Regions from separate parts of the Homo sapiens genome. Here region 2 is linked to region 1. Evidence: fine-mapped expression QTL. Tissue or cell type: whole blood. Region 1 holds a variant in brackets; the other region holds the start of a gene. All regions are shown on one strand. Distances are from middle to middle.

Region 1 (8,830 bases):
TGGTAAATATCTGTGTAAAAATAGTAGTCTATTCTCCTATTCTCCTCTTAAGTTTTGTTTGTTTTTTAAATTATACTTTAAGTTCTAGGATACATGTGCAGAATGTGCAGGTTACATAGGTATATATGTGCCATGGTGGTTTGCTGCACCCATCAACCCATCATCTACATTAGGTATTTCTCCTAATGCTATCCCTCCCCTAGTACCCCATCCCCCAACAGGCCCCGGTGTGTGATGTTCCCCTCCCTGTGTCCATATGTTCTCATTGTTCAACTCCCACTTATGAGTGAGAACATGTGGCGTTTGGTTTTCTGTTCCTGTGTTAGTTTGCTGAGAATGATGGTTTCTAGCTTCATCCATGTCCCTGCAAAGGACATTAACTCATCCTTTTTTATGGCTGCATAGTGTTCCATGGTGTATATGTGCCACATCTAGTCTATCATTGACAGGTACTAAGTTCTTTAAAAATATATTTGATGGTTGAAAATAACTGTACCATTGTCTAATGGGGTTTTAAACATATGTAGACGTAATTCATGACAACTCTAACGTAAGGGGTACAGGTTAAGTAGACCTATATGTAAGGTTTCTACATTCTACTTAAAATGGGGGGAAAAGACATTCTAAGCAGATTCAAAAAGCTAAATATGTATATTTGCATTATGTGAAACTCATGTTTGCCTCAGGGTCTTTCCAGTTGCTTTTCCTTTTGTCTGAAAAAATATTCCCCTATATATACACATCATTTGCTCCCTCAACTAATTCATGTGTCCGCATAAATGCCACCTCTTCAAGGAAGCCTTCCCTTAACCACCCTCATAAAATAACCACCTCTTCCCATTAGATTCTACCTTTATATTTGATTTTTTCTTCATTCATTTATCATTATCCAAAATTTGATATTTTTGTTAATTTATCTTCCCACTAGCATGCAGGTGATGGTCTGCCTGTTCACTTCTGTATTCCCAGGGCCTAGACCAATGCACTGGTTTTTGTTTGTTTAACCTATCAAGAACTGAGAGAGTTGCATAGAAATTTGCCACCTCCTGTAGTTCTAACATTTTTTGCTGTATATAGCTTAAGTCCATTTTATTAGTTACAAACAGGATTAGAATTTTTCTGTTTTTTTTCTGGTGAAAAAAACCTTTTATCAGTAGGTAATGACCTTTTTATTCTAATAATCTTTTTTTGTCTTAAAATCTTTTTTCTGAAATTAATGTATGTATGTGAATTCTTTGTATTAAGATCTGCCTGGTATATGTTTTTCTATCTCTTATCTTCTACTGTTTTGCCTGTATGTTTTCAGATTCTTGTATATGTCATACAGCTAGATTTTTCTTTTCATTTCAGTCTGACAAACTCTATCTTTTAATTGGTAAATGTCATACATTTATGTTTATTGTGATTCTTGATATAGTTGGATTTGTTTATATATCTTTTTTGTTTATATTTGCCTTGCTTTTTCTGAGCTACTATTTTTATAGCCCCAACGTTTTTGCATTTTTTTTTTTTTTTGAGACGGAGTCTCGCTCTGTCGCCCAGGCTGGAGTGCAGTGGCGTGATCTCGGCTCACTGCAAGCTCTGCCTCCCGGGTTCATGCCATTCTCCTGCCTCAGCCTCCCAAGTAGCTGGGACTACAGGCGCCCGCCACCATGTCTGGCTAATTTTTTGTATTTTTAGTAGAGACGGGGTTTCACCGTGTTAGCCAGGATGGTCTCGATCTCCTGACCTCGTGATCTGCCCGTCTCAGCCTCCCAAAGTGCTGGGATTACAGGCGTGAGCCACGGCGCTGGCTGTTTCTGCATTTTTAAAAAACTGACTTTATGGTTAGATTTTTTAAATTCCATTTTTCCTCCACTGAATTGGAATTCATAGCTCTGTATTTATTCCTTTTTTTTTTAACAACTGTCCCTGCATTTTATAAGTGTCTAACTTAACAAAATGTAAAGGCAAACATATCTTAACTTTCCTTTGAAACGAAGTAATGATCTTAGAATAATTTTAATTACATTGACCCTCCCCCAAATGCCTACTTGCTATTGTTATTGGAGGCATTAGTTCAAAACTTCACAAATCGGACCTTATTTTTCTAGACTGATGTTTGGACTGACAAGCTTGTTCACCATTTTATTCACTCACCATTCTATTTTGTACTTCAGACCATTCTTTTATGATAATTTCCTTTTTTTAAGCTCTGACTTAACAAAGCACTTATATTCCAGGTTTGGTTCTAAGTGCTTTATTTTATATTAGTTCATTTAATCCTCATAACAATTCCATGAATACAATTATTGTCAAAATTTTACAAGTGAGAAAAAAAACTGAAGCACAGAGGTGTTAACTCACTTGTCCAGTGTTCCACAGCTAGCAAATGGTGGAATAGGGATTCACACCTATGGAGTCTCCAAAGTGCATATTCTTAACTCCTGTGAAATACTATCTCTCAACTACAGTCACACATCACTTAATGATGGGATACATTCTGAGAAAGGTGAAATGTGTCCTTACGTGATTTCATCATTGTGCAAACCACAGACTGTACTTACACAAACCTAGATGGTATAGCCTACTACATATTTAGACTATATGGCATAGCCTTTTGCTCCTAGGCTACAAACCTGTATAGCATATTACTGTACTGAATAGGCAACTGTAATACGAGTATGTATTTGTATATCTAAACATAGAAAAGGTCCAGTAAAAATACAGTATTACAGGTTGCGTATCCCTAATCCTAAATCCTTAGGACAAGAAAATTTTGGTTTTGAATTTTTTTTTTATTTTGGAATATTTGCATGATACTTAGTGTTGAGCATCCCTAACCTGAAAATCCAAAGAAATGTTCCAAGGAACCTTTCCTTTGAGTATCATGTTGGCACTCAAAAAGTTTCAAATTTTGGAGTATTTTGGATTTTGGATTTTTGGATTAGCAATACTCAGCCAATATAATCTTATGGGACCACCATTGTATATGCGGTCTGTTATTGACCAAAACTTTGTCATGTAGTGCATGACTATATGTCATTTAGGAGTTTTGTGCATATCTCTGAGCTAAACTCTCAATTATCACTTATCTTTAAATGTCTCTATTTCACTCTTCTTAAAAGGTAGTCTGGGCAAGTACATAATTCTAGTTGACCATTATCTTTTGGCACTTGAAAGGTATTATTCCATTAACTTCTGGTTTCCATTGATGCTGATAATAAATCCACTGTCATTTTCACTGCTGTTCTTTTGCAAGTGATCTGCCCTTTCTAGCTGCTTGTAAGATCTTACAAATTCTGCAGGTTCTTTATACAATGTCATTATACATTTCTGTTTATGTATCCTGCTTTCATTATCTTGTGACTCCCAGATCTGTTAATTCATTTTTTTCATCATTTCTGCAAAAATCACAGCACTATTTATCTAAATGATACCTCTCATTAGAACACTTCTTACCAGTGGGAGGTAAAGGGCAGGGATTGACTAGCAAGGGGCATAAGGGAATTTTCTGAAGAGCAGTATATGGTTTTTTTTGACAGTTTGTGTTACACAGGTATATGCACTTGTAAAAATTTACCAAATATTGTACTTAAGATCTGTGCATTTTATTGTATGTACATTTTAAATACAAAAAAGCTATAGAACAATACTGAATACTAATGATGAACATACTAAAATGTTTAGTGGTGATGTCTACAACTTACTCTGAAATGCATAAAAAATAGGATTGATGGATGGTTAAGTGGATAGCTATATGATACAGTAAATATAACAAAATGTTCTAGAATTAATTGGTAAATGTAAAAGTTCACTGTGTAATTCTTTCAACTTTTCTGTATGTTTGAACAATTTCACAAAATATTAGGGGGCAGGGAGTATTGCCTCTACTTTTTTCCTTCTTTTCTTTCTTTCTGAGATTTCAATTAGTCATATGTGTGACTTTCTTATCCAAGCTTCCATCTCTTAATATTGTTTTCATATTTTTACTTCCTTGTCTCTCCTTAGTATACCCTGGGTAATTTTTAAAGATATCTTCTCATTTATTTTTTAAGAGACAAGGTCTCCCTCAGT[C/T]GCCCAAGCTGGAGCACAGTGGCATAATCATAGCACTCTGAAGCCTCAAACTCCTGGGCTCAAGTCATGCTCTGCTTTAGCCTTTTGAGTAGCTAGGACTACAGGCATACACTAACATGCCCAGCTAATTTTTAAACTTTTTTGTAGAGACAGGGTCTCACCATGTTGTCCAGGTTGGTCTTGAACTCCTAGCCTCAAGTGATCGTCTCACCTCGGCCTCCCAAAGTGCTGGGATTATAGGCATGAGCCACCTCAGTGGCTTCATTTATTAATTCTCTCTTCATCTGTATCAAATTTGCTCTTTAACCTTTCCACTGAGTTTTGTTATTCTAACAATTATATTTTATATTTCTAGAGCATCTCCCCATCTCCCAACTACCTTCCAACCTGTCTGTCCATTCCTGGTAATCTCTTGCTCATCTTTATAACATCCTTTACCTTTTAAAATATTCAGAACACAGAAATTCTATACTTTTCATATCTGTCAATTCCACTACCTACAGTCCTTGGAGTTACACATCTACTGAAGTTTATTTCTGCAGACACTCATAGCAGTTTGGCTTTTTGGTGTATTTTTCTCTGTGTGCTACAGCTTGAATAGCTTCTATTGCTATGTCTTCAAGGTCATCAATCTTTTCTTCTACATTAAATTTGCTTTAAGCTCCTACAGTGATTTAAATTTTTTTCAGATATTGCATTACATAAGTCTAAAAGCTGCATTTCATTGTTTTTCATATCTTCATTTTTTCTTATGTTCATATTTTCTTGTAAATTCTTAATTATATTAGTAATAGCTGTTTTAATGGTTTTTTTTGTGCTAATTCCATGATCTCTGTCATTTCTGATTCTATTGACTGATTTTTCTTCTGGTATGGATCATATTTTGTTGAATCTTCATGTGTCTAGTAATTTTTTATTGTATAGTTGTAACTGCTACATTGCTTAGTATCTTGATGTTGTGAAGTTGTTTCCTTCTTTTACACAGTGTTGAATCCTGTTTCGGCAGGTAGTTTTTTTTTTTTTTTTTTGAAACAGAAGTCATCAATGGTGACATGCTGGATGCCACAGATGGTGGCACTCTGCCTCATGTATGTCTTGACAGTGTGTGCAACTTCTCATCTCTCCAGAAGGTCGGGTGGGTCAGCAGGTCCACGATGTAGGTCCCCATTGTGTCAGACCCCTGCTGCCCGTGAGCTCGTCACAGATCCAGCTATGGCTGGGGCTCAGCAGGCTGCCTGAGTAGATGCAGGTGTCGCAGATCATCATCACTCCTGCGTAGTGCTTCGAGACTGGTTGCTTCACCTGCACACAAAGGCAGGTAGGAAATGCAGCATGTTCCCCACCACGTTCATCAGCTGCAGGCAGTTAACACAAGGCCATCACCATCCAAAAGGCATCCACTGATGTTGCTGTGTTCTTGCAAACCACAGTCTTCCCAATACCCTGATGGACTGTGTATTAGTCTATTCTCACACTGCTATAAAGAAATACCCGAGACTGGGTAATTTATTTATTTTCTCAAGATGGAGTCTCGCTCTGTCACCCAGGCTGGAATGCAGTGGTCGATCTTGGCTCACTGCAACCTCTTCCTCCCGAGTTCAAGCAATTCTCCTGCCTTAGCCTCCCAAGTAGCTGGGACTACAGGCGTGTACCACCACGCCTGGCTAATTTTTGTATTTTTAGTAGAGATGGGGTTTCACCATATTGGTCAGGCTGGTCTTGAACACCTGACCTCGTGATCCACCCGCCTCAGCCTCCCAAAGTACTGGTTACAGGCTTGAGCCACCGCACCTGGCCGAGACTGGGTAATTTATAAAGGAAAGAGTTTAATTGACTCACAGTTCCACGTGGCTGGAGAGGGCTCAGGAAACTTACAATCATGGCCAGAAGGTGAAGGGGAAGCAAGGACCTTCTTTTTTTTTTTTTCTCTTCTTAACCACTTTATTTCCTCCCAATTATTATTATTATTATTATTATTTATTATTATACTTCAAGTTTTAGGGTACATGTGCACAACGTGCAGGTTAGTTACATACGTATACATGTGCCATCCTGGTGCGCTGCACCCACTAACTCGTCATCTAGCATTAGGTATATCTCCCAATGCTATCCCTCCCCCCTCCCCCCACCCCACAACAGTCCCCAGAGTGTGATGTTCCCCTTCCTGTGTCCATGTGATCTCATTGTTCAATTCCCACCTATGAGTGAGAATATGCGGTGTTTGGTTTTTTGTTCTTGCGATAGTTTACTGAGAATGATGATTTCCAATTTCATCCATGTCCCTACAAAGGACATGAACTCATCATTTTTTATGGCTGCATAGTATTCCATGGTGTATATGTGCCACATTTTCTTTCTTTTTTTTTTTTAATTATACTTTAAGTTTTAGGGTACATGTGCACATTGTGCAGGTTAGTTACATATGTATACATGTGCCATGCTGGTGCGCTGCACCCACTAACTCGTCATCTAGCCTTAGGTATATCTCCCAATGCTATCCCTCCCCCCTCCCCCCACCCCACCACAGTCCCCAGAGTGTGATATTCCCCTTCATGTGTCCATGTGATCTCATTGTTCAATTCCCGCCTATGAGTGAGAATATGCGGTGTTTGGTTTTTTGTTCTTGCGATAGTTTACTGAGAATGATGATTTCCAATTTCATCCATGTCCCTACAAAGGACATGAACTCATCATTTTTTATGGCTGCATAGTATTCCATGGTGTATATGTGCCACATTTTCTTAATACAGTCTATCATTGTTGGACATTTGGGTTGGTTCCAAGTCTTTGCTATTGTGAATAATGCCGCAATAAACATACGTGTGCATGTGTCTTTATAGCAGCATGATTTATAGTCATTTGGGTATATACCCAGTAATGGGATGGCTGGGTCAAATGGTATTTCTAGTTCTAGATCCCTGAGGAATCGCCACACTGACTTCTACAATGGTTGAACTAGTTTACAGTCCCACCAACAGTGTAAAAGTGTTCCTATTTCTCCACATCCTCTCCAGCACCTGTTGTTTCCTGACTTTTTAATGATTGCCATTCTAACTGGTGTGAGATGATATCTCATAGTGGTTTTGATTTGCATTTCTCTGATGGCCAGTGATGATGAGCATTTTTTCATGTGTTTTTTGGCTGCATAAATGTCTTCTTTTGAGAAGTGTCTGTTCATGTCCTTTGCCCACTTTTTGATGGGGTTGTTTGTTTTTTTCTTGTAAATTTGTTTGAGTTCATTGTAGATTCTGGATATTAGCCCTTTGTCAGATGAGTAGGGTGCGAAAATTTTCTCCCATGTTGTAGGTTGCCTGTTCACTCTGATGGTAGTTTCTTTTGCTGTGCAGAAGCTCTTTAGTTTAATTAGATCCCATTTGTCAATTTTGGCTTTGGTTGCCATTGCTTTTGGTGTTTTGGACATGAAGTCCTTGCCCATGCCTATGTCCTGAATGATAATGCCTAGGTTTTCTTCTAGGGTTTTTATGGTTTTAGGTCTAACGTTTAAGTCTTTAATCCATCTTGAATTGATTTTTGTATAAGGTGTAAGGAAGGGATCCAGTTTCAGCTTTCTCCATATGGCTAGCCAGTTTTCCCAGCACCATTTATTAAATAGGGAATCCTTTCCCCATTGCTTGTTTTTCTCAGGTTTGTCAAAGATCAGATAGTTGTAGACATGCGGCATTATTTCTGAGGGCTCTGTTCTGTTCCATTGATCTATATCTCTGTTTTGGTAACAGTACCTTGCTGTTTTGGTTACTGTAGCCTTGTAGCATAGTTTGAAGTCAGGTAGTGTGATGCCTCCAGCTTTATTCTTTTGGCTTAGGATTGACTTGGCGATGCGGGCTCTTTTTTGGTTCCATATGAACTTTAAAGTAGTTTTTTCCAGTTGTGTGAAGAAAGGCATTGGTAGCTTGATGGGGATGGCATTGAATCTGTAAATTACCTTGGGCAGTATGGCCATTTTCACGATATTGATTCTTCCTACCCATGAGCATGAAATGTTCTTCCATTTGTTTGTATCCTCTTTTATTTCCTTGAGCAGTGGTTTGTAGTTCTCCTTGAAGAGGTCCTTCACATCCCTTGTAAGTTGGATTCCTAGGTATTTTATTCTCTTTGAAGCAATTGTGAATGGGAGTTCACTCATGATTTGGCTCTCTGTTTGTCTGTTGTTGGTGTATAGGAATGCTTGTGATTTTTGCACATTGATTTTGTATCCTGAGACTTTGCTGAAGTTGCTTATCAGCTTAAGGAGATTTTGGGCTGAGACAATGGGGTTTTCTAGATATACAATCATGTCATCTGCAAACAGGGACAATTTGACTTCCTCTTTTCCTAATTGAATACCCTTTATTTCCTTCTCCTGCCTAATTGCCCTGGCCAGAACTTCCAACACTATGTTGAATAGGAGTGGTGAGAGAGGGCATCCCTGTCTTGTGCCAGTTTTCAAAGGGAATGCTTCCAGTTTTTGCCCATTCAGTATGATATTGGCTGTGGGTTTGTCATAGATACCTTCTTTACATGGTGGCAGGAGAGAGAAGTGCAAGCAGGGGAAATGCCAGACGCTTATAAAACCATCAGATCTCATGAGAATTCACTCACTATCATGAGAGCAGCATGGGAGAAACAGCCCCCATGATCCAGTCACCTCCTATTGGGTCCCTCCTTCAACACGTGTGGATTATGGGGATTACCATTCAAGGTGAGATGTGGGTGGGGACAGAGACCCAAACCATATCAGACCAAGATGGAGTCTGTTCACACAGGCTCAGGAGGG
Region 2 (8,830 bases), 27 kb after region 1:
TATTTTATCCTCTCCTAAGCCTTATGCAAACTTAAGAAAAATCAGGTTGAGACCCTCTATTACTGTCAAAAGCCATTACTCATCTCGGCCTCCCAAAGTGCTGGGATTACAGGCGTGAGCCACTGCGCCCAGCCTCCTTTTATCATGGGACATTAAGATTTACTTCATATCAGCATTTAAGTATTGTTAACTTTATGTAATAGCATTTGGGTTGGGGACTGGTGTGTTTCCAGCTGTACAAAGGATAGTTGTATTAGGTGTAATTATGACATTATTATTGTCTTTATTTGAAGATTATGAATGATCTCAGGAGATATGTATGTGTTTAAGTTGACAAGTGGTGGACTTGTGATGGTTAATACAGTCAACTTGATTGGATTAAAGGATGCAAAGTATCGATCCTGAATGTGTCTGTGAGAGTGTTACCAAAGGAGATTAACATTTGAGTTAGTGGGCTGGGAAAGGCAGACCCACCCTTAATCTGGGCGGGCACCATCTAATCAGCTGCCAGCACGACCAGAATATAAAGCAGGCAGAAAAACATGAAAAGACTAGACTGGCTTAGCCTCCCAGCCTACAGCTTTCTCCCATGTTGGATGCTTCCCGTCCTCAAACATTGGACTCCATGTTCTTCAGCTTTGAAACTCGACTGCCTTCCTTTCTCCTCAGCTTGCATATGGCCTATTCTGGGACCTTGTGATCATGTGAGTTAATACTACTTAATAAACTCCATATATATATATATATATATCTCCTATTAGTTCTATTCCTCTAGAGAACCTGGACTAATAAAGAGAACGAGATAAAAGAGGAAACAACAGAGGCCATGATTGCACTTTTTACATATATCAAATATTGGCAAGTCTGCCATCCTAGCTTCCCATCTGCCTACAAGTGGGCAGAGCCATTTTTAACCTTTCTTACTGTGAACATACTTCAATTCACTTAGAATTCTTGAAGTCCAGGCCAAGCACCTCTAGGGTAAAATTTAGCATTCTGTTTTATCCAGGTGTTCACTAACGGTTCCATATTAATTTGCTTCTGCAGATAAAGTATAAATTCCTCATGGGCTAAAATCACACCTTATTTTGTATCTTCCCCTTGCACCAACCACTAGCATAGTACTGAGTACATAGTTCAAATGCCATTAACTCCACAGTGATCCTACCTATGAAGATATGACTTGAAGAATTCTGAAACTCATTAAGCTAACCTATACAAGGATACTAATTTACTATTTATATACTGAAATTAAAGCCCTAGTATGATGTCTGGGGTTACCAAACACAGTGATATAGTAATTTGGTGGAGGCCAGCAAGGCCAATGCCATACTTCTCAGGGTAACTGGAATTGTGTCTTCAAAGGAGAAGTAATTCCCACTATCAACTGGGAGGTACAGGGTATCAAACTTGTGAGAAGAGCCCTTCTGTAGGCTCAAGGAGTGCCAGTGGCATTCAAGGAGGAGGGAGGGAGAGGATTTTTGTCCCCAAGGGGCATCTAGCAACATTTTGAGACAGTTTTGGTTGGTGGTGGGGTGCTACTGGGATTTACTGGGTAGAAGCCAGGGATGCTGATAAAATAAACATCCTACAATGCACAGGATAACCTTCCACAACAAAGAATTATCTGACTTAAAATGTCAATAGTGCCAAGGTTGAGAATCCTTTCTTTCATAGGCAATCAAGGGAATTCTTTGTCCTCTGTGCTCAGACCTGAACTTAAAGAGTAAAATTATCTAAGAGCTGTTTCTGAGTAAGACAAGTTACGAAATGGGCACTGTCATCAGGAGGTGGCATATCTAGTTAAAAAAAAAATTCAGAAATTGAGTAGTCTTATTTTGTATATAAGATTATCCTTATGCTATTCTGTTTTCTACTTTTTTTTTTTTTTTTGAGACACAGTCTTGTTCTTGTCCCCGAGGCTGAAGTGCAATGGCATGATCTTGGCTCACTGCAACCTCTGTCTCCCAGGTTCAAGCGATTCTCCTGTCTCAGCCTCCTGAATAGCTGGGATTAAAGGCACCTGGCACCACGACTGGCTAATTTTTGTATTTTTAGTACAGATGGGGTTTCGCCACGTTGGCCAGGCTGGTCTCAACTCTTGACCTCATGATCCACCCTCCTCGGCCTCCCAAAGTGCTGGGATTACAGGTGTAAGCCACTGCACCCAGCCTGTTTACTTTTATGTTTTAGAGATGGGGGTCTCGCTGTGCTACCCAGGCTGGAGTGCAGCAGTGCAACTATAGCTCACTGCAGACTTGAACTCCTGGGCTCAAGAGATCCTCCAGCCTCAGCCTCCTGAGTAGCAGGAAGTAGAGGTGTACACAACCACACCCACTTTTTTTTTTTTTTTTTTTTTTTTTTGGAGACAGGAGGTCTCACTCTGTTGCCCAGGTTGGAGTGCAGTTTTGCGATTTCAGCTCACTGCAACCTCCACCTCCCTGGTTCAAGCGATTCTCCCACCTCAGCCTCCCGAGTATCCGGGATTACAGGCATGTGCCACCACACCTGGCTGATTTTTGTATTTTTTGGTAGAGACGAGGTTTCACCATGTTGGCCAGGCTGGTCTCAAATTCCTGGCCTCCAGCAGTGCTCCTGTCTTGGCCTCCCAAAGCGTTGGGATTATAGGCATGAGCCACCACACCCAGGTACTACTGTGTGATTTTAATATCCAATGTTTTTTCTTCTATTACAAAAGTATCTTTACATACTTATCTTACCCTAAGCCATTGAAATTGTTCCATTTTAAGTTGTACTGACAAAGGATCCAAATTTACAGTTTCTGCTCAGCTGTGTAGCAAAGTATTAAGGAAAGGGTTACATGTTCACACTTTGAGGCCAAGTGGTAGTGACTCCAAGGACAAAATGAACAGTCAAAAAACAGGGCTGTATAATCCATCCATTCTTTCCAACAGTAGAATTTCCTCCAATTATCAATTCTGGAGATTCTGGGGTTATTCAATTAAGAAGAGTAGCACATACTTCAGTCACATGAGGACACTCTCAAAATACAAGTTGAAAATACAAAACTCCTCATAACAATGTCAAGTGCCAACAATGATTTTTAAAATTTAAGTAGGGCTGAACTGTGTGTAACTGGTGAAATGTTCAAGTTAACAATCCTTACACACGAAATCTCTCACTTCACTGACTTAATTCATTATTTGCTGAATAAACAATAAACTTCCAGTCAGTAGTCAAGAGTTGGCAATCTAGCTGGTAGGACATAACATATAATCATGAAACAGCAAAAACAGTATTCAAAGATTAAATTAGCAATACCCCAAAATGTGTGTTAGAGTTAGCATAAAGAATTTCTGATGTAGTTTACCAAGAGCTAAACTAAAAAGTCCAGAATACAAAAAACAGGGATGCAATGATGTTAGTTTTTTTCACCATCCTTGAAATTCTCCCATTAACCACAGCTCTGAGTTTTCAACTGCTCTTTGTCCTTAAATCTTCAGATTCCCTCCTTTGAATGGGATAGGTAGAGCAGATTAGAAGAAATATATTCCGAGGCTCTCTAATAGTTTCTGGATGATTAACCTTCATGAAAATAACCTCACAGATAAGTAATTAGGATTTTTCAGCCCATTTCTATAAACTAAGTAAACTTTTTTTCTAGTGAACATAACTTGATATATTAGTGACTGTAGAAAGTCTTTCTACAGCAACAGGAATTATATCAAGGCTTTTGCAAATTCCTGGCAACTCCGGGCATGTTTAAGTTCTACTACTCATCTGTTCTGACTATATTTTCATCTGATGGAATAAGCAGTTCATCTCCTTTCCTAGAACTTTTAGTGCTCTACTGTCCCCCTCACTTTAGTTAAGGTCTGCCATGTCCTCCTCTCCGACAGTCCTTGACTTTCCCAATGGCATATTCATCTGCTCAAACAGATGTCACTGCAAAACAAAACAAACTTTTAACAAAAAGCAATGTTTGCATATTTGGGGCCTTTTGTATGACAATATTGCACGTTTCCTCAGAAAAATTCACGGAGATTCTTTAAGGTTGGGGGTTTAATCTATTGATATTTTCCTTAGGTAGACAAAGACAACCTCTAAGTGCGCTCAGTTAATCTTTAACCGCTACATCATCGTCACCCAGGCACTAAGACATAACTAGGGCATAATGAGTTTTATTTCCACCAGGGGCGCCTAGTAACTACCAGGTTCAACGCTCCCAGGTGGCCGACATGTGATGTGCTCTACTGTTTGGGCTGGGGATATTAGCTCAACAAACTCTGGCCACAAGGATCACGCGGATATTCTTGGGGATGCCTAGCGAAATGCGCTGTACCTAGGCCTCGAACTCTCGCCTGCTCTCCGGTGGGCGGTCTCGAACTCCAGCCTGCTCTCCGGCAGCCCACAGCAATGCGCCTGCCAAGACCTTAGGCTGCAAAACTCGCCACGGCCCAGAGCTCGCCTCCAAGTGCGCCCCGCACAGGGCAAGCTTTCGGCGAGGACTCGCGTCCCACCCATCTAGCCCTGGCCGCTGTCCCAACTCCCGCAGTTCACAGAGGCGGCGGCGGTGAGCGCAGCCGATGCCACATCCTCAGCGGCAAGCTGAAGAAACCTGTCTCCTCTCTGGGGCGACCAAACGATACGTCGATGCCGGAACCGACCCGACGCCGGAGCCGTCGGCTCCGTCCTTACCGTTGCTCTCCAGGTACACGCCCCCGTCAAAGGCGGCTCTGCGGCCCTCTCGCGAGAGAGTGCCCGTGGTACCTCCTTCCTCTCAGTTGTCTGTCTCTCCCCGCCCCCGGAGTGATTGCGCGGCTTCCTCCAGAGGGCGGGAACCTTGGACGTGGCGGGGCTGGGTCAGTCAGGGCGCTGGGCCCAGCCTCTCTGCAGGCTGGCCTTCCGCGCTGCCGTGAAGCCCCCGACAGGTCCCACGCCTGCCTAGGTAGACCGGCGCCAGCCCGAGTGACGCCTGGCGTGTGGCCGCGGGCAGGCGGCTCCGTGCGGCGGGGCGGGCGGGTGCCACACCTGTGCGGGCAAGGGCGGGGCGGGAAGGTGCGCAGGCGCGCTCGGGGCTGGTGGGCGGTGGCTCCTGGGAAGTTGCGCAGCCGAACTGGCCGGCTGGGCGCGCGCTCTTGCGGTGGCGTAATCTCTCAGCCTTTCTGTGTCTCCTTTCCTCCGCCTCAGTTTGGGGCGGGTCGGGGGAATGGCTGAGGAGATGGAGTCGTCGCTCGAGGCAAGCTTTTCGTCCAGCGGGGCAGTGTCAGGGGCCTCAGGGTTTTTGCCTCCTGCCCGCTCCCGCATCTTCAAGATAATCGTGATCGGCGACTCCAATGTGGGCAAGACATGCCTGACCTACCGCTTCTGCGCTGGCCGCTTCCCCGACCGCACCGAGGCCACGATAGGGGTGGATTTCCGAGAACGAGCGGTGGAGATTGATGGGGAGCGCATCAAGGTGAGCGGATGGGGAACTGTTGGGGAGGACAGGGTGACAGGTGTCCCAACCCCACCGTGGGCTGGTCGCTGGCCGTGTGCACGGTGTGTGTGCGCTCCATTTTTTTCTCACGCTGATGAGATTGGAGTTGGGGATTGGAAGGATTGCAATACTGCAAACTTCTAAGGCAGCGTTTCTCAGACTTCATTGTGCATGCGATTTACCTGGGGATCTTGTTTTTGAAAATGCAGGCTATGATTTAATAATCTCGCTGATGATGCAGGTGCAGCTAGTCCGTGGACCACACTTTGAGTTCAGGAGTGTAGGGCTTATCTACCGACCCATTTACTGTGTGTGTCGTGTGCTGGGAGTCAGTCAAATATGAACGGAGGAAAAACAGTGAAATTGCGCGAGAATGGAAAATTCATTTAATCAGTAATAGTTATTAAACATTCATTCGAGCAGTGCCTTAGATGTTGTGGAAGTAAAGCCTATTGCCTTTGAGGAAGTACTTAGGTATTCTCTTGCATACAGTTTTGCTGTAGTAGTTTCTTTATGATACTGATTTTAGAAAAATCTATTTTCCTGCAGAAACATTCTATATGTGATAGTTCCTACTCAGGTTGCCAAAAGCATTTCTCATGATGCCACCTCAGACACACGCCCAATTCTTTATTCCCTTTAAGTCGTTATTTTTGGTCCCTGGGACTGGGGACACTGAGTGACAGTAATAGTGGAGAAGGTAGTATAGGCCCCAGGGCAGGTTTGAAGTTCTGAGGGGTTGGAATCTAACAGTGGAATGAGGATCAATGACAAGGCTTAGGCCTCTTGATGGTATAAACCTTAGACACACCTTCATAGCAAGCCACCACTAAATGCCACCTGTTGATGCCACTCCTTAAAACATAGGTGGAACCACCTTGCCTTATACTACTGCTTTAAATCAGCGATCGTCTTTATCTCAGTCTCTTGGTGGGGATGGGGAGTGGTGGGAGAACAGGCTTGCTTTAGACGTTCCTACCCTCGTATCTTAGAGGCAAGAACAATTTATTTTTCAGTTCCCTAATCATCGCCCCCCACCCCAACGGGTTATACTGCTAATGATGGTAGAGGTGAAGTAAGCTGGGTTAAAAGAAATTAACCTTTCTTTGGTGCTTCTGTCTTTTAATTTTTCACATTAGTATTTCATGTCCCATATGAGCTCTCAGTGGTGGTTTTGGAGTTGCTTTGTATTAGGGAATTTAGAAAGATTTGTATACTTGCAGAAGAAAAGATAGAATAAAAGGCTAAACATTTTTCACCAGAATTAGGTTTGGCCCAGAAGCCTTTGGGGTGAAAAATAATGGAGCTTCTGAAGTTCCAAGGGAGTTAAGATTGGGAGAAGCAGGAATCTGGGAAGTACGTGGGCTTTGGAGCCCAACTAACCTGGATTCATATCTGAACCTACGAAAGGGTAGGGATGGGCTGCGTGTCCTTACTAGGGTGACCAACTTTGCCCAAGACTGTCCAGGTTTTAAAACTGGGTCTCACATCCCGGGGACCCCCTGTATTGGGCACACCAAAATAGTTGGTCACCCTGGACCTTAGGCAGATTCTTTAACCTCTCAGAGTCTGTATTTTTCTTCCGAAAAACTGGGATCATGATACCTTATCAGGCTGCTGTGAGGATCAGATGAGGACATATATGAAGCACCTGGTTCATAGTTGGTGCCTTTAAAAAGATTCTTTGTCTTTCCTGGTGGCTTAACATTATTTTTCCTGTTTGCCACCATTAGTTCTGCAGTTGTACACCCAAAGTTGAAAGCAGAGATAGTGGAGGGCATAGGTAGACAGCTAAGGGGAGAGAAATTTAAAAAACAAAACAAAAACAAAAACGGAAGTAGGAAATTCTTTCAAAAGTGGAGAGAATGAGGGTGGGGGAGGAGTTGGGATTTGAGGGCCCTTTATCTGTTCCTGGGTTGCCATTTATACTTAAAGATAACAGATGAATCAGGTGCAAATTTAAGAGATAATAGTATTGAAAAAATATAAAGCATGTGCAGTGTATAAAGTCAATTACCTAACTACTGAGGTGAGTGCTGGCAGTGATAAATAAGACAGAACCACAGGTATGACGAATCTGGGAGCACAGAGTTGATAATTCTGGTTGGGAAGAGCAAGGAGATGATATTTTTTGGGGAGATTATTTCTACTGAACTTTAGCCTAACTTGTTACATTGATATGGACTTGAATACTGAGATCATTTTTCTTCTAAGGCCCTAGCCGTTGATTTGTGCCACCAATGGTGAGACTTGAGAGAGATTTTTATTGTGGTTGAAATGACTACAGACATGTTCTGAGGTTTCTATAGTAGGAAAAGATATAGCTATGTTGGGCATTTTTTAAAACCACAGAGCTTAATTTTTTTTAGTGCCCTTTTTTTCGAAAACTGAAAAGTGATATAAAGAGCTTTATTCTATGTGCTGCTTCTGCTGCTTTTTGGTTAACCTGTAATACATCTTGAGTGCTGCTGAAATGTTCATATTACGTCTTTGGAAAATTGTAGCCTGATCTAAAATGACATTTTTCCTAATTTTTCATCTCAAAGCTGGAAAGCTCTATTACTTTACTAGTAAAATGCCATTCTAGACATTATTTCTTTGATAAAAATGAGATATTGCGTTAAATGTTTTGATAATCATGGACTAGAAAATTTTCAGAAAGCATGACTTAACAACAGTGCCCTTTCAGAATCCGTTAAAATGTTTTATGAAATTTAAGAAAGCCTATATCTGCTAATCCATTCCTAAGCAGTATGTGCAGGTAGTTGAAAGAGGAAAATCTTGTTTGCAAAATTTTGGAAGTCGAATAAAATTATAAAATTAAATTCCTTAAATACAAATACATTCGGCTTTTAAATTGAGACTCCTAACTCTAATCCTTATGCTCCTTCCTCGTGTGTATATCCCCTTCATGACTAATTGTATTCCTTTAGCACAATCATTTTCCAGTGGCAGACACACCAACCCATTAAAGCCTGGTGTTGTATTTAATCCGGCCTCCCATTAGAGGTCAGCAGGTCCTACTTGAACATTTTAGTAGCTTACTTTTTTGTAGCGGTAGAAATGAAATGTTCCCATGTTAAGTGCAAAATGTTAATATTAACTAAAGGAAAATAATCAGGACCTCTCCCCACACTGGTAAAACAAATATTTAATGAGTAATTGCTGGAAAGAAGACATTTTGATAAGCACAGAGAATTATGATACGGCACAAGGGTCAGCAAACTATGCTTGAGGGCCAAAAATGGTCTTTTGCCTGTTTTTACATGGCCACAATCTAAGAATGATTTTTTACATTTTTTAATGTTTAGGGAAAATATCAAGATTTCATGACATGAAAATCATATGAAATTCAAAATTCACCTAGGTTGTACTACTTTAATCCTTCTT

The links. PIP is the estimated chance that this variant, and not a neighbour inherited with it, causes the effect.
Region 2: RAB33B-AS1 starts here. The variant in region 1 is fine-mapped to the expression of RAB33B-AS1 in whole blood (TOPMed, PIP 0.95).

Annotation. Positions count from the first base shown.
Region 1 is chr4:139,421,759-139,430,588 of GRCh38, forward strand. It overlaps the pseudogene LOC100421868. Among named protein-coding and RNA genes, the nearest start is that of RAB33B-AS1, 28 kb to the right of the region's middle. The variant C/T (reference allele first, on the strand shown) is at 4,057.
Region 2 is chr4:139,449,026-139,457,855 of GRCh38, forward strand. It overlaps RAB33B-AS1 (RAB33B antisense RNA 1), which reads right to left and starts at 5,016. Exons shown (of 1, transcript NR_159964.1): 1 at 2,650-5,016. RAB33B (RAB33B, member RAS oncogene family) reads left to right here and starts at 5,096. Exons shown (of 2, transcript NM_031296.3): 1 at 5,096-5,419. The coding sequence starts at 5,171. RefSeq lists enhancers at 4,384-4,723, 5,344-5,393 and a silencer at 4,794-5,123.